Regions from separate parts of the Homo sapiens genome. Here all the other regions are linked to region 2. The links come from fine-mapping of genetic effects on gene expression. A gene starts in region 2. Each other region holds a variant in brackets. All regions are shown on one strand. Distances are from middle to middle. Region 1 overlaps IRF2 (interferon regulatory factor 2). Region 2 holds the start of IRF2 (interferon regulatory factor 2). Region 3 has its middle 16 kb from the start of MYL12BP2.

What was found.
Region 1: its variant is fine-mapped to the expression of IRF2 in NK cells (Gilchrist 2021, PIP 0.95).
Region 3: its variant is fine-mapped to the expression of IRF2 in monocytes after LPS (Quach 2016, PIP 0.95). The same link has a PIP of 0.9 or more in monocytes, monocytes after R848 and monocytes after interferon gamma.

What each region holds. Positions count from the first base shown.
Region 1 is chr4:184,384,794-184,392,971 of GRCh38, reverse strand. IRF2 (interferon regulatory factor 2) reads left to right here. Exons shown (of 9, transcript NM_002199.4): 8 at 2,223-2,269; 9 at 3,906-5,243. The coding sequence ends at 4,214. Among named protein-coding and RNA genes, the nearest start is that of LINC02362, 6.6 kb to the right of the region's middle. RefSeq lists enhancers at 2,368-3,101, 3,102-3,835, 5,841-6,599, 8,118-8,178. The variant ATCCCG/G (reference allele first, on the strand shown) is at 4,761.
Region 2 is chr4:184,470,661-184,478,838 of GRCh38, reverse strand. IRF2 (interferon regulatory factor 2) reads left to right here and starts at 4,289. Exons shown (of 9, transcript NM_002199.4): 1 at 4,289-4,460. It overlaps IRF2-DT (IRF2 divergent transcript), which reads right to left and starts at 4,037. Exons shown (of 1, transcript NR_186573.1): 1 at 1,535-4,037. RefSeq lists enhancers at 3,251-3,580, 3,931-4,120 and silencers at 4,151-4,270, 5,081-5,130, 5,211-5,900, 5,961-6,030.
Region 3 is chr4:184,326,494-184,334,671 of GRCh38, reverse strand. No RefSeq gene overlaps it. Among named protein-coding and RNA genes, the nearest start is that of MYL12BP2, 16 kb to the right of the region's middle. RefSeq lists an enhancer at 6,108-6,667. The variant T/C (reference allele first, on the strand shown) is at 4,454.

The DNA.
Region 1 (8,178 bases), 86 kb after region 2:
GGATCGTCGTCAGCTGAGGCTGAGGGCTTCTCTGGGTCTCTGTGGCTCCCAGCACGGGGTGTTTTGGGGAAACATGCCCAGTCCGAGGAGTGGAGAGATCTGTCTTCTGCATGCTCATGGCCAGCCCACCGCGATCACTCAGGTTTGTGTGAAGTTACTGGAGAACAGTGGCTGAGAAACAGGCCCAGAGACTCCAGGCTGGGACCAGTGGAGTCCACATTCTTACTTTCCTTGTTTAAGGAATGCACCTGTGGCACAGTTTGTCCATTTGTTCTTTTGCCTTTAATTGATAGAGAGCCTGGTCTGGGGCTAATGCTCTCAGTGGAAGAAAGGGCTCTGTCTGGGCTGGAGCCATCTCATCCCAGCTCTGCCACCAGGAAGATGTGAGACAGAGGCCAGCCCCTCAGCAGGGACCGGGTGGAAAGCTGGAAGGCACTGGAGCATAAGAGCTCTTCTGCGTAACGGGGGATGAGAGCAGCTGCTTGCTGACGTGGGACCCCTGTGAGACCTGCATGCAAAGCCTCTGACATGGCACTGACCCATAGGGCTCCCTAAATGTTTGCTTCTTTTAGAACACGAGCTTCACTTTTGGATTTTCTTGTGTTGTGAAATATACGTCACCTAAAATTTACCATACTTTTGGGTATGGGGTTATTAAATTCAGCATTGGAACTAAATAGGAGGAAAGGCAGTTAAAGGTTGCCATCAGGAAGAGAAGCTATTGCAGTTACTCTTTAGGCCTTGTCTGTAAAACGAATGGCTCAGGCTAAGTGATCTCTAAATGCCTAAATATTGCACAGGCTCTGCCCTCTGTGATTGCATTTCTCAATGGTTATGGACACTGGAATAATCGCACACCATTGATATTTTATTTTACAAAATCAAAATGTTTTTACGTTTAAAAAGCTTTTTATAAGCATAGGTCATGTGTAATCACTAGACTTCGATTCCATTAATCCAGCCTGTTGTGCAAACCCAGTGTTAAGCAGTGCTGATGTATGGAGTGTGTGCTGTGTGCCAGGCCCTTGCTAGGCCTTTCCCATGTACCCTCTCACTCACTCTCCATGTAATCCTCTTAGATGGTGGCAGTGCCCTCATTTTACAGAGGAGAAAACTGCAGCTCAGTAAAGGTGAGAAACTTGCCCAGTGTCTCACAGCTGGCAGGCCAAATGGGGATGGCAACTGATTGGCTGCCATAGCCATGCAGCCACAAACTTAGTGGCTTGAAGCGACACACATTTGGATCTTACAGTTTCTTTGAGTCACGAATCCAGGCGTGGCTTAGCTGGGTCCTCTGCTGCAGAGTCTTGCAAACCTGCCATGGAGGTGTTGGCTACAGCTGCTGTCTCATCTGAGGCTCAACTGGGGAAGGGTCCATTTCCAAGCTCATGTGGTTTTGGCAAAATTAAGTTTCTTGCAGGTTGTTGGACTAAGGGCCTCAGTCTCTTGCTGGCTGTTGGCTGGAAGCAGTCCTTAGTTCTTTGCCATAGGAGCCTTCCCAACATGGTTGCTTGCTTTATCAAGGCCAGCAAGGCAGAGTGTTTCCTCTCCCAGCAGGTTTCTGAGTTATGTAACATGATCATGGACACAGGATCACATCCATTTCATCCCCTTTGCTGTATCTTATTTGTTAGAAGCAGACACATTCCATCCACACTCAAGGGAGGCAATCCCAAAGAAAGTGAATCCAAGGAGGTGAGGATCATGGGGAGCACCCCAGATCTGTCCACCTACAGTAACCCACATGGCAGATGCAACTCTAGAAATCCAGGATCTAAGTCCTAAAGGGGTGAGAGGTAAAGGAAGGATCTGAGTGGGATGGGGATAATGTAGGAAGACCTTTTGGAAACGGTCAACTCTGCACTGGGAATTAAATGAATTGGTTGGCATGGATTGAAAGACAGGACCCATGTGGGCATTGTGGACAGAGCTGCAGTGAGGAGGGCCCCAGGGACCAGCGCCCCTTCCTGGGAGGTAGTGCCCAGTGTATACACAGCCCGGCCCTGGCCAAGGGAGCCTCCTCACAGCTCTCAAGCCTGGTTTCTCCGAAGATTACAGAGTTGAAATTCACTCTAGCTTCTCCCATGTAGAATGTTTCGCTTTACAAAGGGAGGGAGGTGATGCGTTTAGTTACTCAGTCTCCTTTTTATAAACACTGCCTGAGCCTGGGGACAGCTTGAGGGACAGGAATGATGGCCCTGTGTTTTTCTCTCTGTGAACAGAAAGCGAAACGACTGATAGTGTGCCCAGCGATGAAGAGAGTGCCGAGGTAAGCCACTGCCCAGCCTGCCCACGATGCTGCCAAGGAAAAGCCTCCCGACCAGCTCCGGGCTTTCCTTGCTGCTGGTTATGCACCTTTCCTTTAGATCACAAGCTTCACTTTGGGATTTTCTTGTGTGGTGAAATATGCATCACCAGAATTTACCATACTTTTGGGTTTGGGGTTATAAAATTCGGCGTTGGAACTGAAAGGAGGAAAGGGAGTTAAATGTTACCATCAGGTAGAGAAGCTGTGATAGCAGGAAAAGGGAATTGAAGTGGAGGCTGGGAAATGCCGATGCTCTTACCACTTAAACATCCTACTTCACCGGCAAAAATAGAGCAGCCTTCCCAGCCAAAAGCAGTGACCAGTACACGTCACAAAATGCTAAGCAAAAGCCTCTTCCACGTGTGCGTGGGTTCCCTCCCGCTGTGACCCGTGCCCAGAGCTGGTTGTGTGCCCCATCTCGATTCCGAGTGGGTCCCGTCCCCTCTCCCTCCCATAGATGGGGCGTGCACAATGGCAGAAAGTGGCTGGAATGGAGATGGAAAGCATTCCTGCTGGCCACCTGCTGGGGGTCTGCGCTTGAGTGAATGAGAGAGAGAGAGGGAGGGAGCAAGAGAGAGGGAAGCTCATGGTTGTTTGAATTAGTGGTTTCCCATGTACTAAACACTTTGAGAAAAAGTGCAGGGATTCTGAAAAGACAGATGTACACGCTCCCATACACCCTGGCCTGATTTCTTCAAGGTTGCAGCTCTAGCCACTTCTCTGAATGAAGCCAGCCCTGAGGCCGCTGCTTGCTGTACACCGTGGAGCTCTAAGCCGCCCCCATTTGAAAGCAATCAAGGGGCATTCATTGCCTGTCACTAAGTTCCTCGCTGCCTTTTCTCTGAAAATGCAGGTTGGCTCAGGTTGACTGGGCCAGCATTGAGGGACCGAGTCGCTGTGCCACACTGGCCATGGTGACCTGAAACCTATCGAATAATCGGGCCGAGCCGCAGAGCACAAGGGAACCAGAAACCAAGCTGCTGCCTTCTTTTCCTGCCTTCACAGAGTAGTCTGGAAAGTATTTCTGGGAGGTAGCAAATGGGAATTGATTTTTTAAAAAAAAAGAAAAGGGAAGAAAAACCATTACTTGGCATATGAATAGCTGGGTGCAATAGATTTCAGTTGAGGGATGTAGAGGTGCTAAGCCTTTGTTCATTCTGCAGTTCTTAAGAAACTCAGCTAAAGCACCAACACATGGGAACGACACATTTTTCATTTTAAAATTTTTTTTGTGGGTTGTTGTTTTGAGACAAGGTCTCATTCTGTTGCCCTGGCTGGAGTGCAGTGGCGCAATCATAGCTGACTGAGGCCTTGACTTACTGCGCTCCAGTGATCCTCCCGCCTCAGCCTCCCGAGTTGCTGGGGCTAAAGGTGTGCACCACCATGCCTAGCTAATTCTTACGTTTTGTAGAGATGAGGACTCGCTACATTGCCCAGGCTGGTCTCAAACTCCTGAGGTTAAGTGATCCTCCAGCCTCAGCCTCCCAAAGTGCTGGGATTACAGGCATGAGCCACCACACCTGGCCAGTGATGCATTTTTAAAAAGCCATCCAATAGAAGGAGAAGGAAATACATATCTTAATTACTTTCTTGAAAGGGGCGGCCACACTGGCGGAAGAGGAATATTGAAGGCAAACAGTACCTCAGCAACATGGGGACTCGAGGCTCCTACCTGCTGCCCGGCATGGCGTCCTTCGTCACTTCCAACAAACCGGACCTCCAGGTCACCATCAAAGAGGAGAGCAATCCGGTGCCTTACAACAGCTCCTGGCCCCCTTTTCAAGACCTCCCCCTTTCTTCCTCCATGACCCCAGCATCCAGCAGCAGTCGGCCAGACCGGGAGACCCGGGCCAGCGTCATCAAGAAAACATCGGATATCACCCAGGCCCGCGTCAAGAGCTGTTAAGCCTCTGACTCTCCGCGGTGGTTGTTGGGGCTTCTTGGCTTTGTTTTGTTGTTTGTTTGTATTTTATTTTTTTCTCTCTGACACCTATTTTAGACAAATCTAAGGGAAAAAGCCTTGACAATAGAACATTGATTGCTGTGTCCAACTCCAGTACTGGAGCTTCTCTTTAACTCAGGACTCCAGCCCATTGGTAGACGTGTGTTTCTAGAGCCTGCTGGATCTCCCAGGGCTACTCACTCAAGTTCAAGGACCAACAAGGGCAGTGGAGGTGCTGCATTGCCTGCGGTCAAGGCCAGCAAGGTGGAGTGGATGCCTCAGAACGGACGAGATAATGTGAACTAGCTGGAATTTTTTATTCTTGTGAATATGTACATAGGCAGCACTAGCGACATTGCAGTCTGCTTCTGCACCTTATCTTAAAGCACTTACAGATAGGCCTTCTTGTGATCTTGCTCTATCTCACAGCACACTCAGCACCCCCTTCTCTGCCCATTCCCCAGCCTCTCTTCCTATCCCATCCCATCCCATCCCATCCCATCCCATCCC[ATCCCG/G]CTCTTTTCCTACTTTTCCTTCCCTCAAAGCTTCCATTCCACATCCGGAGGAGAAGAAGGAAATGAATTTCTCTACAGATGTCCCATTTTCAGACTGCTTTAAAAAAAATCCTTCTAATCTGCTATGCTTGAATGCCACGCGGTACAAAGGAAAAAGTATCATGGAAATATTATGCAAATTCCCAGATTTGAAGACAAAAATACTCTAATTCTAACCAGAGCAAGCTTTTTTATTTTTTATACAGGGGAATATTTTATTCAAGGTAAAATTCTAAATAAAATATAATTGTTTTTTATCTTTTCTACAGCAAATTTATAATTTTAAGATTCCTTTTCTTGTTTATCAGCAGTTGTTATTACATCCTTGTGGCACATTTTTTTTTTTAATTTTGTAAAGGTGAAAAAAGCTTTTATGAGCTCATGTAGCAATCAGATTTTCCTGTGGATTGATAATAAATGAATATGATATATAGTTAAATTTTTAAGGGGCATCACTCCTGGCTTTGTCTGTGTCTGCTTTAAAAGAGCATAATCACGGAATAGGACTGACAAAGGATTGTTTCTTTTTGGGGACCAAAATGTTTTCCCTTGTTGACCACAAGAAACCGTGGAGGTTCTTACTGTGAGGCTTCAGTTGACTTCTTCTCTTGAGTGCTCGCCTGAGCAGGGGCCCGTGCTGAGCGTTTTGCATGACTTCCCGTCTTCATTCATCACACTTGTGCTGTAGAATAGGCATTCATCTCCATTTCATGTGGAGGAAATGAAGACTGAATGTGAAGATGCCTTTACTTGGCTCATAGTGGCACTAAGAGGCAAGGGCACAAGTTGGGCACAAGTTGAGCCCAATTCTCTGTGCTATGAAGGGGGTCTTTTTTCTTGTAAGCATATCCGTTATCTCAAATGTCTGTCTTCCTCTGTGTTGGGAGCATTCCCTGTGGAGGGGGAGTATTTTAGCCACGCCACTGGTTTCCTTCTCTGCTGTGAGCAAGGTTCACCCCACTCTGTGTCTTTCCTGTTTTCATCCTTAGGCTTACACGTACGACAAACGTCTTGTGTTTATGTCACTTAGAGGGGTGCATGGATAAGACATTTTCCACAACAGGAAATATGTATTGGGCTCTAACACCATGTCCGTCACTCGTCTTTCTAGGACCCGAGGCCTTACACATAGACCGTGCCCTCAAAACTTGGGGTCTGTCTTGTGGAATAAAAGGGGTGACTTCAAGAACACCAGTCTTTATCAGCCACTTGGTGTTTGAAGGTATAGTCTTGGCCTGGAGAAAGCCACAGCACCAGCCTCCCCTGCATCCCCAGTATCTTACTCTGTAAAATCAGAATATGAAAACTTTGCTACCCGCCTACTACCTCTGGGGGGTTGTGGAGGAGATTGCTAAGTTAATATTTGAAGAGGTTCCTTTAATGAAAGGACAAAAGGCTATTTTTATGCCTATCTCCATGTGTGGCTGCAGATATAATTAGCGGTCATAAAGTTATCCAGCCCTGAATGGAAATCAACTGGAGCATTTTCCTGGCGGATGCGTTGTAGTTGAAATGCCACACACAGAGGCGGGGCTGCTTCTGGAAGGAGCACTTTCGTTGACTGTCTCAGTTTCTCAGTGGAAGGGGAGTTATCAGGAAGAAACAGATGCTCCCTGGCTCCTTGGCACCCGACTTTTCAGTTAAGACCTGCTCTTCCCCCAGGTCCTGAATGGAGAAGTTCAGTTCTTTGAGACTTACATCTAAAATGTTTTACTGAGTCATCCTATTTTAAATAAATTAACAAAACAGCAACGGAAGGTTGCCCTGAGTCACGTGGCCTGGTTATCAAAGGGTTTAAGGTAGCTCAGGTCTCCTCCCCCTTCCTTCTTCCCAACACAGACTCAGGGCTTCTTCCTGCATCTCGGTCCCGAATGCCATTCCTGCTGCCCTCCCCTTGCTTCTGTAGCGTAACTAGACTTCCCAAGGCCCATCAAGTGGAAGAAAATTCAGGACTTGGAAATGCACCATTTAAGTTCCAGAGATGATACTCCATTGCCAATAAGGCCATGAAAAACAGAATCATGTTTAAAATCCTTCTGAGAAAGCCTGTATTGTTTCTAAGTGATACTTGCCAGCAACGCAGGAAAACAAGCTAGTCTCAGGATGCCTGGGGTTGACATGGGGAAGGAAAACAAAGGCATTGGGGCAGCTCCTGGACCCAAGCCTCAGACCTTGTCGTCACTTAGAGGAAGTGCCAGGGACGCATGCTTCTGGTTGGTATTTGTGTGAGCTGATAGGCTTTGATGATGGGCTTGGGTGTGTGTGTGCACGTATGCGTTTAATAGCAAGTTCAAGTTCAGTGTAACTGCCTTTGGAACAATAGTTTCCATTCTCTGCAGCCAGTACCTGGGTCACTCCCTTGATAATGGGCTCACTGTACAGCTGTGAACTGTGAATTCAGGGACATGTATTTCTGCCCAGCCTTGAGGTTGCAAGCACCCAGCACATCCACACACCTCGATGAAAGGGGCTTCTGGAATGCCATTTGCACATCTAAATAAATCCACCCTCAACCGTACTGTTTTGTCCGTGTTTTGATGAACCACTGCCAAAGGTGGTATTTAGTCTATTTCAAAGGATTTGTAAAAAAGAAATACACATGGCTATGGAATACAAATTCTTTGGACATCAAAACCCTAAAACAATACCCTTTCCCCACCCAAATCCCAAGTGTACCGTACTATCATGTAACCACTACTGAGACAGAGATTTTAGAAGTGAAGGAGATGAGTGATTTGATTTCAGGAGTCTGAGTTTTCAAACTTGTGCTTTTGGAAGTGCTTTGCATGTGAATGGAAAGATGGTAAGCCCCAGCTGGCCTCCTGCCCCTAATTCAGAGAGATGGAACATGAGACGTTCCTTCTGCTTGAGGCCACTCTGTAACCTGCGTTCATTAGGCTTTAAAGGCCCCCTGCTATTGTAGTTTTGGACAAATAAGCCCAGATAAAAGGTTAAAAAAAAAAGAACCCCCACTATTCTGCCAGATTTCTCCTGATAAAAGACAAAAGCTAGGGAAAGGTTTACACACAGGTAGCCAAGATGAGTTCATTGGCATTCAGGGGTCAAACAGCTAATGTCTGAGTGCCAGTTTGGTTTGGAGGCACAAACTGGTTTTTACATGGTGCCGTTCAGCCGCCTACCTCACCCTGAAACTCCATCCCACAGTACAATGACGTGCCTGGGGCCAGAGTTATCAGAGCAGGTGGGACGTGACTCTGACCTCCCTCTGTCCCCAGGCTGCAGTGGACCCCTCCCAAGGGCAGTTGGGTGACACCATCAGCTTCTTGAGGCTGCTTCTCACTCATTTGCACCCCAGCATGTGAATCAAGGTTGGGTACTACTAGGCTGTCATCCCTGGGATCTCCTCCTCCCCA
Region 2 (8,178 bases):
AAACATGCTTCATCCAGGAGATGACTCTAGTTTCACTATAAAAGACCCTTCAACTTTTTTCACGTTAGACTGAAGTGTTTGGTCAGATTTCCTCAGTATGACAAAGGTTACTCTTTTTTTTTTTTTTTTTTTTTGAGATGGAGTCTCGCTCTGGCTCTGTCGCCCAGGCTGGAGTGCAGTGGTGTGATCTCGGCTCACTGCAAGCTCCACCTCCCGGGTTCATGTCGTTCTCCTGCCTCAGCTTCCCGAGTAGCTGGGACTACAGGCGCCCACCACCACGCCCGGCTAATTTTTGTATTTTTAGTAGAGACGGGTTTTCACCGTGTTAGCCAGGATGTTCTCGATCTCCTGACCTCATGATCCACCCGCTTCGGCCTCCCAAAGTGCTGGGATTACAGGCGTGAGCCACTGAGCCTACTTTCTTACCCAGGCTTCCAAAAAGGCTGGAGTTTCCACAGAGATTTATTACTATATGCATCTCATCAAAGGGCTAAGATACTTCTTGACTGTGTATATCAGTACCATGTGGCTGTTTTGGTTCATTTGTACATTTTTGGTTTGCAGTGACATGTCATCAAGGGCCTAAGAACAGAAATTCATTCTGTCTATGTTTTATGAGTTTAGGGGCCTGGAAAATTGCAAGCAACACCCATGCTTCAGGGAGGCCCCAGGACTCAGGAAAGGGGGCAGTCTGTGAGTCCTCCCAGTTTCCCAGCTAATCAATGAAGTGAACAGTGCAAGGCTGTGGAAAAGATGTTCTCTCTGACTTGGGACATGTATAATTTGTTGCACCTGAGACATGTGTAGGAGTTAATGTGGTCAGAGCTCAGAAGTTACAGATTTTGGAGTCATCAGCAAATAGTGATATCTGAAGCCCTGGGCGTGGAGGAGAACACCCAAAGATAAAGCATGTAGAATGAGAAAATAAGAGGGTTGAGGATAGAATGCCTGGAAACACCATAATTTAGGGGGCTGGCAGCAGACGAGGAACCGGCCAAGAACTAGAATAGGACAGCAGGCTGTCACATGGGCATCGTGGAGAGCAGCCTGCACAGTCAGCATTCTTAAATCCTACACACAGACAGAGGAGATGCGGATTGGAAACGGTCCCTTAGAAAGATCACTAGAAGGAAATACATAAAAATATCCACAGGTCTATTCCTGACTAGTGAGATGTCAGGTGGCTTATGTTCTTCTCTCACCATTCTTGCATCTTCCAAATTCTGTACAAGAAACATTAATTACATTTATATTAAAAAGCTATTAAAATATAAAACAAGGCTCTGATCAAGTCTAAAATATTTTATGAGAGCCTGATGAAAAGAGCAAGTAATTATTAATTCACAAGTATTTCAGTGCCTGTGTGCTGGGCACCATGCTAAAGATAAAACAATGAACAAGAGGACAGCTCTGTTGTTTGACAAAAAGGAGCGGAGGCTGGTTTGGCAAGGGAGGGATGTAGGGCTTGTGGGACACAATGGCAGGAGATGAGGCTGGAAAGGTCGTTTGGTGCCAGATTACAATGGACTTTATGTGTCTTGTCAAATAATATGGTCTTTATTCTGAAGGCTACAGAGAGGCTTTTGAGGGGGGCAGTGTTAGGTTTGGAATTGTGCTTTACCTGAAGTTAATTTTCGACTGGATTTTGGCAGTAGTGTGGCTGCTGGCCTGGGGGAGTCCAAGCAGGAGACCAGGAGCACAGGCAGCAGGCAAGTGCAGTAACTGAATGAAGGCAGTGCCCTGAGCACGGGCCAGGCCCAGAGATATTTAGGGGTAGCGTCAATAGGATATGACTGATTGGATGTATGTTGCACGAAGTAGGGCATTAAGAAAAAAAAGGAACAACAAACTTCTTCCTGCTTATCAAAGACCATAATGAGGGCAATGGCCTTTCCTGAAACACGTTCCTTGGGAAGTCAAGCATGAGCATCACAATAGTTTGGAAGCTATCTGCACCCAGCAAGTGAGTTTCCAGTTAGCCTCACGCATGGCAATAGGTGCTTAGGATGCAGGATGCAGGTTCGTGGCCCCGGCCCTGTCTGGCTCCCCTGAAATCACACCACAGAGGCAGCTGCCTTTCGTAAACACAAGGCAGGCAGTGTTAGCTGGTCCAACTAGACCTCATTCTTTCTTTCACCTGGGGCCTGTGCACGGAGGCTGCTGACATGAGTGGACTCCCACGTGTGTGGTGAACGAGAAGTTCAAAGTGACACTTTGCATTCTTCCCTTCTTCTCCACTCTCCTCTTCCCGCTCCAGGAAAAATAAAGGAAGATGATTGTTTTGGTACAGGAAAAAAAAAATGAATACTAGGTTTTTAACTTGTGTCCCGGGTTGGGTAAAGAATGACAACTATTCTATAGTTTGTATAGACTTTCCCTTAGTGGTCATTGCTATATGACATAAGAAAGTCAGTGCCTGGGCCAGGCACTGTCACAGGCCTGTAGTCCCAGCTACTTGGGAGGTTGAAGCAGGAGGATCGCTTAAGGCCAGGAGTTCAAGGTTACAGTAAGCTATGATAGCACAACCTGAGTGACAGAGCAAGACCCTCTCTTTTTTTTTTTTTTTTTTTTTTGAGACAGAGTTTCGCTCTTGTTGCCCAGGCTGGAGTGCAATGGCACAATCTCGGCTCACCACAACCTGCGCCTCCTGGGTTCAAGCAATTCTCCTGCCTCAGCCTCCCAAGTAGCTGGGATTAGAGGCATGCGCCACCAAACCTGGCTAATTTTGTATTTTTAGTAGAGATGGAGTTTCTCCATGTTGGTCAGGCTGGTCACAAACTCCCGACCTCAGGTGATCCTCCTGCCTTGGCCTCCCAAAATGCTGGGATTACAGGCATGAGCCACTGCACCCGGCCTACCCTGTCTCTTAAAAAAAAAAAAAAGTGAGTATTATAATAGAGGGGATAAGGAATAATGTGTATGTGAGGTCTATTTCTGAGACCAGAGCCACAAAACAGAATCCTGCACCTTAGCCATTTTCTTACCACACGCGTTTTCTTGGATACTTCCATTTTTCCAGTCTATATAATTCAATACTTCTGTGACAGAGAGGTGTTGGAGTTTTTTGTTTTGCTTTTGTTTTTTCGCAACTCTTTACATACAAACAGCTATGGTCTCCCAGGAAGGAACTTCCTCTGTTGAGTACAGAAGTCTGGGAAAAGACTGGTGAAATTGCATGCGAGGAAGAAACAGGTCTAACTAAATGTGAATCTATACTTTTAAAGCAAGGGACCACAAAGGGTAGGTCCCAAGGAAGTTGCATTGCTTGCTGCACTTGTCACACGGGCTGTACTTTCTTCTCTCATTTATTTCCATTTACAGCGTTGAAAACTGAGGCCTTAGGCTTTGGTTGAAAACCGAGGCCAAGGGTGACCAGCCAGTGAGTTAAGGAGGCCCCAGCCGAACTTTGCTGGAAGTGCTCCAGCATAAAGCCTCTCTCCAGAACCAGCCGCCACTGAGACGTCTTGAAGTCAAAGTAACTCACACCCTTGTCCACCTCGCCCTGCGGTGAAGAAACTTCGGTCGCACAGGCTCCAGAACTCATCTTGGCGTGGGCTGTGACTTACTGGGGGATGGGCCTCCTTTTCGTTCTAGCTCCTAAATGGAGCGGAGCGCCAGGTGGTGTCAGAGGGGGCGGCGGCCCCTCCAATGGTGGCACCCTCAGCCACGGATAAGGTTCCAATTAGGTAAGGACGCAAGTAATGCTGTCGTTTCGGCTGACTGCTCCTTTCATTCCTTGGAGGTGGTCGGTGTCACAAAACGAATTTTCATTTACTCTCAACAGTCACACCAGCCCTGCTAACTGGATGGTCGCAGCCCCGTGCCTTCGCCGGACGCCCTCCTGGAACCTTCAGGCCACCCTGAGGATGGAGACTCGGGTGCCCGCTCTCCTCCCCTACCGCCGCGGGCCTGCGCCCCCCGCCCCGGACCCCGACTCGGACGTTCTAGCCGCACGTGCGGGCGCCCCTGGGTGCGAGCCGCGGACTCACGAGCCGCTGCTTGTTGCTCCCGCCGCCGCGACCTGGGGAAGCGAAAATGAAATTGACTTTTCCGAGAAATGATGAAAGCGGCGCTGCCCGCCAATGAGCTGCTGCGGCGAACTTCCGCACCTCCCGGCCGGGCCGCTCGCGCCCTCCCTCCGCCTCCACCTCCCGGTTGCACAAGCTTGAAACAAACACTGGGGAGGAAGGGCGGAGGGAGGAGGGCGGAGAGGGGAGGCGAGGGAGGGAGCGCGGCCGGAGGAGGGCGGGGGGTGGGGGGATTTCCAGCCGCGGCTCTTCGCAGTTTCCTCTCCTTGTTTTGCTTTCGATCTGGACTGTTCTCAGGCAAGCCGGGGAGTAACTTTTAGTTTTGCTCCTGCGATTATTCAACTGACGGGCTTTCATTTCCATTTCACATACCCTAGCAACACTTATACCTTGCGGAATTGTATTGGTAGCGTGAAAAAAGCACACTGAGAGGTAACATTTTTCAAATAATAGTTGTGACTGTGTGTGTTTCTCTCGAGGGCATGTTTCTGGGGACTGTGGGGGGCCGTGTGTGTATGCGTGTCCTGATGCCTTGACACGATGTTTTGCAGACGGAAAATGCCGGGGTTCATAAATATTAATACTGATTTTTGGAGGAACAGTCGGCGCAATTATGGATCATCTGATTTTAGGGGAAGCAGGTTCTGCTGCTGTTGCTGCTGCTACTGGGGCTGCTGAGGCTGCGAGGAGGAGGAGGAGGAGGAGGTAGAGAGGGAGGAGGAGGAGGAGGTTGGTGGAGGTTTAATTTCACTTTTGGATTTGCAGATGCGGAGAGGTGGCTCCATGGACACAGACCTGCTGTGTGTGCTTCTGCGCCCCAGGTGTTGTGTGTGGGGGTGCAGGTCAGCTGGAGTCGGGCCTCATTTAAAACAAAATTGTGTGTATGTGCGTGTTTGTGTGTGCGCGCGTGTGTGTGTGTGCAGCCACCGCCGCCACCGGATCCGAAGGAGGGGAGCGGGTCCTTCTCGGTGCCCGCGGCGGCGCCTCTCCAGGCTGCCTCCAGCGTAAATAAGCAGGCACCGCTCCCCGGCCGGGAGGAGCGCCTCCAGCCACGGCCAGAGGAAACTTGCTGGGGCGCCCCGCGGCGGTCCAGGGGCTCGCCTGCCTGCCGGGCTCGGGGTCGGGTCGCGGGCGTCGGGTGCCAGCGGCCGGGGCGGGAGGGCGGGCTCGGAGCCGGGCCGGGCGCCGGGCCTGGCCGACGCGCCCTGCTTCCTGGGGGCTGGGCCGCCGCCGCCGCCGCTCAGAAGGGACGCCGCGTCCTCCTTCCCGCCGGCCAGCGCCCGGTCGGGCCCTGGGGCTTTGTCATTGCACTTGTCCCAGCGCGCCAGGGGCTCGGGCGGCGCGTCCCAGGAAGGCACCGTGCCGAGGGGTCAGCCGCCCGGGCCGCGGCCTAGCGCCGTGCGCCCCCGGGTCCCCGCAGGCGCCCCCGGCCGGCCTCGCGCGCTGGGCCTGACCCGCCTCGGCTACGGAGCGGGCGAGGTGGGGGCGGGGAGCCTCCGGGGACCGAGCGGCGCAGTGGGGGCCGGCGTCCCCTCGGGGTCCCGGGGCGCGGGCCGCGGCGGGGTGGGGACGCGAGTGCCCGCCCCGTGCCCTCCGACCCGGCTCCGGGCGCCGGGTGACATTCGCCCGCTGGCCGAACATGGTTGGTGCAAAGCCGCGGCGGCCGCCACTTCCTTTCCGCCTCGCCGGTAGGGCTCGCCCACCGAGTGAAGCCGGCCGCGGCCAATCGCGGCGCCCGCCTGCTCCCAGTGGCACGGCCTGGGGGCCGGCGTCCGCCGGGGCTGGGGAAGCCGTTCCAAGTTCCAAGGGTCGCGGGTGTAACTCATGCCCCTCCCAGCACGCGCCGGCGTCTCCCCTTGGCCCCCGGTCTGGGTGCGTTTGCCACCCTCTCCTCCTTGTTCCCTAAGAAGCGGGGGAGGGGAAGGAGGCGGGCAGCCTGGGCAGGGCGCCAGAGCCGTGGTCGGGCACCAGGTGAAACGCCCGGGTCAGTCTGTGTAGGCCGGACCCTTGGCGCTCGGCTGCGGATGTGATCCCGGGGACTGGCGGCCGAGGTAGCTCAGAAGAGCGAGGTGGCTTTCGCTCGTTTCTGACCCGCTACTGTCTGAAACTTGGGGACATATTGCCCGCCCCCTCCCTCTTCAACCTCCTCCCTCCGGTTGCTCCTTGTCCTTGGTTATGGAAGGAAAAAACTCAGTTGTTCTAAATGAGGAAAAGTGGTGCTGGCATTCGTCTTCAGCCACCGGCCTCCTTATGGCTGTGACTCGGTCTGCTTTTGATGAATGGCCAGGAGGTATGGAGGATAGTTAGATTTCCTGTTGTGGATTTTCAGGCATCACCGAGACTGCTGTCAAGCCTGCAGTCATTTACTAGTTTTCATATCGACTGCAGGTTCTCTTTGAGCAGTTCAGTTTTTGGTGCTTAAGGGCAGGTGCACAACGGGGTCTGGGGTTAGACCAGGCGGTGGATAGTCTTGATGCTAGGCAGATGCAGTTATCCCTACCAGGCCCAGAGGGTGACTCTGTTTAACTTCACCACGCACGCAGATTCAGGATTCTCTGATTTCCCCAACTTTCCTTTATTCTTCTTTTAGTGGGAGAAGGGGCAAAAGTAGAAACCTAAAAAATCCTGGGAAAAGGAGCCTTTTCTGAGGAAACTTCAGCAGATGAAATATTTAAGACTTGAACTGGGATCTCTAGGGGGAACGTTGGAACATCTATTGATTGATGTGTCAAAGTCCGGAATTTCACTGTAATTAGTGAACGATTATAACTTGTAACTTTGTCTGTTATGTAAGAAATTACATTTTGGTCTCTTAGATCCAAGAGTTCTTGTCTGTTACGATTTGTAACTGCTTGTTAAAATTAAACATTTACATATTTCATTCTCAGTGAGTTGTCATTTTTTTGTTAGAGAAAGTTCCAGTTATTTCAGATTTACTTACCTGTAAAAATGTCAGCATAATCAAAAGTAAGGATCTGTAGTCAAACTGGAAGCAAATTATGGCAAACACATGCGTGCCATGAAGTTCTGACAGCCTTATGAACAATGGTCCCACTTTTATCCCACTTTCTGAAACACTTTATTAGGCAAATAGTGCACCAGAGCAAAAGATGTTTAAACTTACTGGAAAAATAGACACTTTGGATGCTCCACATTTGATGTGCATCAATTTTCTCATGTTACCAACGATGTTATATTTTTATTCTTAACATCATCTCGTACAAAACTGTTGTTTTTAGAGCATTTTCACATAATATCCTTTTGATAGTGAAAAACCACTGTACTCTATCTAAATGGAGTATCTGGGTTATAGTTCCCTTATCTGCCTTATACCAAAAAGGGCTTAACGCAGACAAGAGAATTTATGTACACACTCAATAAATATCCTTAGAACATCTATTATAAGCCAGACACAGTGCTAGCCTCTGTATACTCAACTGACAGCGAGAAAGACAGCATCTTTACACTAGGTTGTGTTCTGGTGAGTGAGCTGACCATTAACAACAAAAAATATAGTTATTACCTTTTGGGGTTAGCTGTAAGGAGGATAATAATAATTTTTAACTATATCTCGTAAGTGTTGCTTTCATGAACAATTGAGATACTGTATATGAAAGAACATTGCATAAATTATGGCAGTCTACAAATGTGTAAGGCATTAACTTTCAAAATTATATCAGATTATTCTTAGTGTAAAAAGGCCAGATAATCATGACTGGATTAGACACTATCTTTCTCATAGAATTTCCAGCAAGGAGGGATTTTACTTCTGAGCATATATAAATAATGATAAAAGATTAAACATGGAATAACTTTTATATAAAGTATCAAAAAAATTTCACAGTGGAATCCGATATTGTCAGTGAATTTTTTCCTGTCAGAAGGAAAGTTAGGTGGTATCCATGGAGACCAAATGATATGGAAATAACAGTGATTGGACCAATGTATTTTCCCTCTTTATGTCAGATAAGAAAATCTTCCCAAGCCTCTCTGTGCTTTAGTCTGAATCTTCTTCACTCTCGTGTCAACTTCTTCATTATCTGTCATTGCAGGTGTGCACTGGGCTGATTGTAGTATTTTGCTTTTACCACCTTTTTTTTCTTTTCTTTTTTTTTTTTTTTGAGGCAGAGTCTTGCTCTGTTGCCCAGAC
Region 3 (8,178 bases), 140 kb after region 2:
AGCACCACCAGGCCTTATCTGCAATGCCTAGAGATTCAGATGGGTTCTTCTCTTCTTGAGGTCCTAAAAACATCCTGAGTTTCTTTGGCCTGCCAGAAAGTCACCTTCCTGACTCACCTGTAAGGCTGGGAACTCCATAATCCAGGTACCAGGCAGACTTTCCGGGAGGGCTTCATATGCATTGGCTCCATAAAGTTAACCTTAGTTCCTCAAAACTGTCTGTTCATATGTGATTTTATGTCTTATTCTCAGTTGGAAATGCAGAAATCACCTGTCTTCTGCGTCGATCAGGCTGGGAGCTGCAGACCGGAGCTGTTCCTATTCGGCCATCTTGGAATGGACCCCCATGTCTTATTCTCAAATAAAACATTTTGGTCAAAGCCTTGATTATCTAATCAATTTTTAAAATTATGTTCTGTTACAAAAAGGACAGATTCTTATCGAACCCATATAAAATAGTATATCACCATTGATACGGTTTGGATCTGTGTCCCCACTCAAATCTGATGTTCAATTGTAATCTCCCAGTGTTAGAGGTGAGGCCTAGGGGGAGGTGATTGGATCATGGGGACATTTTCTCATGAATGTTTTAGCACTGTCCCCTTGGTGCTGCTCTTGTGCTGGTCAGTGAGTTATCGTGAGATATGGTTGTTTAAAAGTGTGTAGCAGCTGGACATGGTGGCTCACACCTGTAATCCCAGCATTTTGGGAGGCCAAGGTGGGCAGATCACCTGAGGTCGGGAGTTCGAGACTAGCCTGACCAACATGGAGAAACCCCATCTCCACTAAAAATACAAAGTTAGCTGGGTGTGGTGGCGGGCGCCTGTAGTCCCAGTTACTCGGGAGGCTGAGGCCGGAGAATCGCTTGAACCCGGGAGGCCGAGGTTGCCGTGAGCCGAGATCGTGCCACTGCATTCCAGCCTGGGTAACAAGAGTGAAACTCCGTCTCAAAAAAAAAAAAAGAAAGTGTGTAGCACCTTCCCACTCTCTCTTTCTTCCTTCTGCTCTGAGTATGTGATGCGCCTCACTCTCCTTTTGCCTTCCACATGACCGGAAGTTTCCTGAGGTCTCCGGAGAAGCAGAAGCTGCCACGCTTCCTGTGCAGCCTGCAGAGCCGTGAGCCAATTAAACCTCTTTTCTTTATAAATTACCCAGTCTCAGGTATTTCTTTATGGCAAAGTGTGAACAGACTAATACAACCATGAACATAAAAATACTCAGTAATAGTTTCTGAATTATGGAAGGATTAGGAAAAAAGATAAATGTTCCATTTTTGTTATAGAAATGTATCTACTAAATTGTTACATATTATAGCTAACTTAAGAGAAAAAGAAAAGGGGTTCCTTATGTCCAGAAAATAGAACATTAAGAACAAGCAATGTTCCAAACAAAAAGCCATAAAAATTATACTCCTTCTTTAGTTGATTCAGTCCTATGTAATTAATTCTTGTTTTGCTTGATCATGGGTTAGCAGTTTCATGAACTCAACTAGAGTTTCGAAAACCCTCACTCAGTCCAGCAGTATGATATTCAAGTTTTTTAGGCCATGTCAGTATCAGATGGGGGCTGGGGAGGTTGATGGGTAGAAAATTATTAAGAGAAGTAATTACCAAGAAAAATATCAAGGGGAGGGGAATTCTTGCTAAACTGACTTTAACAGGATTCTTGCTGAAGGCAGACCAGTGTGGTCAGAGGTCAAGGTTGAGGGACTCTCACTAAATTGGCTTAGCAGGATCCCTGCTAAAACTGGACTAGGCAGGCTGAAGCCTGGGTCCAGGGATGAGTCCTGTTAAAAAGAGGGCTGAGAGGGGCCTTCTAAAGTTTGGTCACTGAGACTGTCTTTGTCAAGGGCCCTTCCTATGTAGTATTTATGACGGTATTTTGTCTGGCATTAATAGAGTTAATATTGTGTGCCTTTCACAGCAAATCAAAAAATATCAGAGCATTTAAGAGTATCAAGATATCATGTTGACCTTGGAACTGATAGCTTGAAGCAAAAAAATAAAAAAATTGCTGCTTAATTCCTCTGATAAGCTCTTGAAATAACTGAACTCTAACCCTGGTAACCGTCACCTACTTCACAAGGTTGATGGAAGGCACAGGTAAGAAGAGAAAGCCATAACTGTTTGAAGATGGGCAGATTCTGACCAAGACTCCAGACTGTAAGGCCAGGAAAGAGAGAGGGCTTTCCTAAGTCTTGAGCCCAGGTGTATGCCTGGATCCCCAGTCTGGGCTCTGGCAAGAGACAATCAAAGATCCCAGCAAAAATATTACACTGTTCCAATTCATGGTTAAAAATGTTGGCATAGGTAGTGGTATTTATCTCTGGGTTTTTAATTGACAACCAGGAGCAGCGAGTTAATATTGAAGAGCCCTATTCAGGAATGAATATACACACTCCAGGGGTGGTCTGTTGGAATTTGAAAGACTATTAAGAGGCTCCTCCTTTGGGAGGCCGAGGCAGGCAGATCAGGAGGTCAGGAGATCGAGACCATCCTGGCTAACATGGTGAAAACCCATCTCTACTAAAAATACAAAGAATTAGCTTGGTGTGGTGGCACACGCCTGTATTCCCAGCTACTCGGGAGACTGAGGCAGGAGAATCGCTTGAACCTGGGAGGTGGAGGTTGCAGTGAGCCGAGATCATATCACTGCACTCCAGCCTGGGCGACAGAGCTGGACTCGGTCTCAAAAAAAAAAAAAAAAAAAGAAGAAGCAGCTCCTGCTCTAGAGAGTCAGCTATAAGAACTTCCTCTATCCTCAATGAACACCAACAGCTTTGCTATCTGGCATAATGGATTTTAGGAGTCATTTTCATTGGTGAAGTAAGAGTTGTTCAAAATATTATGGGCTGACTGGAAGCACTGTATCAGATTGCATCTCCTTGCATAAACAGGGTATTATGACCTAGAAAGCCTAGTGGATAATGTATGCCCTTCCAAATGCTGTCTCTGGTTTGGGATTTGAATCAGGACTTGTATCCACAGCTCATAGAAAGGTTCCTGCACCTGACCCTGACTAGACATGAAGCTAAATCATGCTGTTCGAGTACTGTCACATCTGCCTTAAGTGAATCTGTTATGTAAGGCACCTGTCAGTGTGCCAGCAGAACAAAGCACCAGTACTTGGTTGAGTTTACAGAACTGGTTGTACCACGTTTTTGAGCCTGCTGGCTTCTAAATGTTTATTTTATGGCCGAATTCCGTCTGAGACTTGCTTTCATTGTAACATACCACCTGGTATGAAGCTGAGGAGACCTATAGCCCTCACCTACATCTATTATGGGCCCACATACATGTGTTTGTGTTTCTTAGCTTAGGGAGGTTTCAGAAGCCCCGAGGCTGGAGTAAAGCATGGTTACGGACTCTTGTTGTAGCAGAAATGTTGCTTACTGTCTTTCTATGACCCTTTGTATTTCTGTGTATTGGTTCTTCACCACTAATAATAAACCGCCTCAGTTCTTTTCTTAGAAGGACGTTGAACACTAACTATACGGCATTGAGCTAGGGATGAATTAAAGGGGAGCTCCCTGGAACTCCAGGAACTGTTTTCAAAATGTGCCTGTTTGTGTTTATATGGTAACGTTTGGCTGAATCCATTTCACCTTCTGAGTAACACTTAAGGCAAAGCTGAAATTCTTGCTGTCAACAAAACCCCCAAGACTACAATTTCTACCCAGCCTCTTTCAAAAAGCATGGAAAACCTCCTCCATTCCAGCTTATTTTTGCATTGAGGCTGGTATTTCATTTGTTTGTTCTTTCGCTTTCTTTAAGCACCACTGCCCAGCAGTGTGGCGTGAGTACTGCTTGCTTTCTGCTCCCAGTCTCACTTTTTTTTTTTTTTTTTTTTGAGACAGAGTTTTGCTTTGTCACCCAGGCTAGAGTGCAGTGGTGTGATCTTGGCTCACTGCAGCCTCCACCTCCTGGGTTCAAGTGATTCTCCTGCCTCAGCCTCCTGAGTAGCAGGGATTACAGGTGTGCACCACCACACCCAGCTAATTTTTGCATTTTTTGTAGAGATGAGGTTTCACCATGTTGGTCAAGCTGGCCTCAAACTCCTGACTTCAGGTGATCTGCCTGCCTCAGCCTCCCAAAGTGTTGGGATTATGGGCGTGAGCCACCTCGCCTGGCCCCAGTCTCTCATCTTTGTACCACACATATAACTTTGGTTTTGTAAGTAAGAAAATGCTTACTCCTTGCTGTTGACTACACTGTGAGATTCCTTTTGAGAACCCCACAAATAAAGTCAATACAACCATCAGGAATCCTTAGACTCATTAAAATTCCAGACCCTGTAAAAACAATATTTCCTGTTGAATCTCAACATGAACAAAGAGTGATCAACTGAGAGTCAAACGTGACTGTGGGATGAGTGAGTTTGGACATTAACCACATGATGTGTAGAGGAGGCACATCTCTTGTTGACACTCGCTTGTCCATGTGACACTTCTGCT[T/C]TCCTGACACGCACTCATGGATACCACGAGTGTGTGTGTCATGGGAAGTGCACGCCACCGAGCGGGCGCGGGGGCTGACCGGGCTGGGTCACTGCAGTGAAAAGTCATGTGGAAAAAGCTACCATTCATTTAATTGTTTTCACTTCTCACCTTGAACTCAGCTTTGTGACCACTCTGTGAAAACAAAACCAACACAGGTATCCTGCCACAGAATCGCCATGTGTTAAAAGATTCCACAGAGGTGTGACTGGACAGCAAACAGCGTTTTTCAGAGAGCTCCCTGTTAGTGGCAAAATGAACATTCCCTTAGGAGGGCAGATCCCTTTTCTCAAAAGGCCAGAGGATGGGGATGCGGAAGGGGGTTGACTGTCTGATTGGGATTTATGCCAGTGGAATGCAGCCAAGTTGTGCTTATAAAGGCCTTATTCTTCCTCAGGTCAGAGCAGTACTACTGGGAGAGCCAAGGCGCTTCTCTGGATGCACTCAACTACAGGGATCTTTCTTTTGTACATGCTTGAATATTTACCATTAGGTTTGATGTAGTGGAAAGACTCCTGGATTTGGAATCGGAAACTCTGAACGAGAAGACACTTATTTTGTCACGGTACGGGAGGAAATGTATCTTCCTTGCCCATCTCAGGTTCAGGGCTGAGGCCCATATAAGAAAAGACAGATTAAGAAGAGAAAAGTATACACATTTAGTTAATCTAAGTTTTACTTGACACGGGAACCTTCATAAGGAAATGACCCAGAGAAACAGTTCAGCCTGGCTTCTTTTGTACAACAGGTTTGACGAGAAGTGGCCAGGTGTGCGGAAACGTGATTGGGGAAAGAGTGTGGTCTGATGGGAATAAACTGGGGGAAACTGAGCAAGGCCTGTTTGTTCAGCTTCTTCTTTGTCTTCAGAAATAAGGATGTTCCCTTTCTCCGGGTCTAGGGAGGGCACCGCTCACAGGAGGGTCTTACGATGACCTGCTTCAGGAGAAGGTCAGAAAATCCTTCTTAGGTTTTACGACCTGATTCAGCAGGCAAGGTGAGGGGAAAGGTGAGAGGGAGCTTCTTGCACGTGCCATCTCTCAGATTCCTTCAGCTTAAGATATTCAGTGTGTCAAGGTACCACAGTTTGGGGTAGCATGTCCTGAACCCTGTCATTACTTAACCATTCTGAGCCTAGAGCTGTCTTTTGTAAAATGCAGATAATATCCCACGCCTTACAGGACAGTTCAATCAGAGGAATAAATAAAAGTGCCTATGCAGGTACCTGGAGCATAGTACATGCTCAATAAATGTTTTTGCTCTCAATCTAATTTTAAAATTAATTATATCGGTGTAATCCTTCCATAGCTCTTATTTAATTTTTATGTTTGACTCCCCAAGGAGGTTGTAAATACATCCTAGAGGGAAGGGACCTTAGATTATCTTTTTATGAAAAGTCAACAGCAGTAAGTGAAAGAAATCACTGTACATTAAATTTTTTTGTCAAATGAATGTCACTGCTTTCTAAAAGTACTTAAAAAACACTGATATTATGCAACTTCCTCCTAGCTCTGGAGACATCCTGGAGGTTACCCTTATGACTCAACTAAGAAAGCCCCTCAGGACTGAGGATGGGACAACTGGGATGTAATTGGGAATTGAGGGGGTGATGGAGAGATCCACTCTCCATACTGTTCTCTAGGAACAGCGGGGACACACCTGCTGCTCTTGTTCATCAGCTCGTCAGCCATCAGGCTGCCCCTTTGCTCTTGCTTTTAATACACTAGCACCTGTGCAGGAAAACAGAAGAAAAGAACACACATTCTTCAGGCCTTTGTGATCCCTCCTGTGTTCATTCGAGTGAACTAGAGAACCAGAGCTGGGAAAACCCCCATGGCGATGCATGCAAAGACATGCACACAGGTGACTCCTGTCTGGGTACTAGCTGGAACAACAAACACTATGCTATACGTTCTCTGAGGTCCACGTGGTTGAACTTGAGTCTGAGAAAGCATCTTGTCTGATGGGTTCACCCAGAAGCATCTCAGGTCAGGACAGAAAAATCCTGACATCAGGAGCATCCATGCTGCTTTGCCTTGACCAACCGGTCACCCTGAGTGTGATGGAAACTAGATTTACTCTGGCTATTGAGGCATGGTCTTTCTCTTGCTCTCTTTAATAGAACTTCCTTCTTTCACTAACAATGAGGTTGAGAAAGTATGTTGAGGCTTAAATATTTCAACAAGACGGAGCGCCAAAAGCCAGGAGCTTCCCAGTATTTCTGAAGCTCTTTCCGCTTTTCCAGAATCAACCCCCTTTTTCTATTTACTGTCATCCATTAAAATATAATGCTCTGTCAACACCACTGTTTCTGTTTTGAATCTTCCAAGCCTGGGTTTGGTAAACAGTTTTCAATTCATTGACTGTTAATCATTCATTTATCTGCATGTTCAATGACACCAGCATTTGCTGTGTTCTTCCTATGTGCTGGTCGCCGGGTTTTACAGATGAACAAAATGAAGCTCAGAGGATAATCACTTCTCCAGTGGCAGCTGCTAAGCAGCAGAGCTGGGATTTGAAAGAAGCTACTCAGGCTTTAAGTCCCATGTATTTTATTCAATACACCTAATTTCAACATCTAGCAAAAATAGAAAACTGATGATAATCTACCTGTAATTATGGATACTTTCATTCTTTTTTTATTTTAATTTTTTTTGAGGCAGAGTCTTGCTCTGTGGCCCAGCCTGGAGTGGAGTGGTATGGTCTCGGCTTACTGCAACCTCTGCCTCCTGGGTTTGAGCAATTCTCCTGCCTCAGCCTCCTGAGTACTGGGACTACATGCATGTGCTACCACACCTAGCTAATTTTTGTATTTTTAGTAGAGACGGGGTTTTGCCACTTTGGCCAGGCTGGTCTCAAACTCCTGACCTTAGGTGATCTGCCTGCCTTGGCCTTCCAAAGTGCTGGGATTACAGGAGTGAGCCACTGCACCTGGCCTATCCTTTCACTCTTAAAGGAACTTTTCCAGCTATTCCACCCAACTGGCTGCCAGCGTTACCTTCCTAAATAACTTTGCCTTTATCATCTCTAGGTCAACATACCATCAGTTCAGGAGGAAAAAAATAGGTTTGAGATTAGAGATTGGGAATATTGGTTCAGACGCCAATTCTTAATTGCAAGATCTCCTATACTTTTAATTATACTTGTAGGGGAGGAAAAACATTTGTTCTCTGCTCTCCTGTGTTCAGTGGTTGGGGGCCCCAGGAATTAAATTCACACAAGACAGACTACCAAGAGAGAATAACAGATACAATTATGTATGCTGGCACAGGAATTCACAACGAAATGTGATTCGAAGAGGCATTTAGAATTTGGAGCTTATATAAACCATCTTAGGCTGGACAAAGGAAAGGGGATTTTGGGCTTCTGAGATGGGAGGTAAGTTATGGGAAGGTGAAGGGAGAAAATGTATAATAAACAAGTGTTGTTTAATAACGTTTGTTAGGCAGATAAGAGTCGCCTCAGGTGCTAAAAGTTGTCTCTGGAGTATTTCTCTTCCTGGTATGGGAAAGGGAGACACCCTTACAAATGGAAATTTATGTCCTGTTTTTAGACAGAATAGGGGATGGCAGACAGCGAATTGCCTTCAGCTCAAAACAATTCTTACGCCAAAGTGGCATATTTGGGGGTGGCACATTCTATTTCCCATTATACCCAAGATGCATGAATCTGAAGCCCTACTTTTTTGT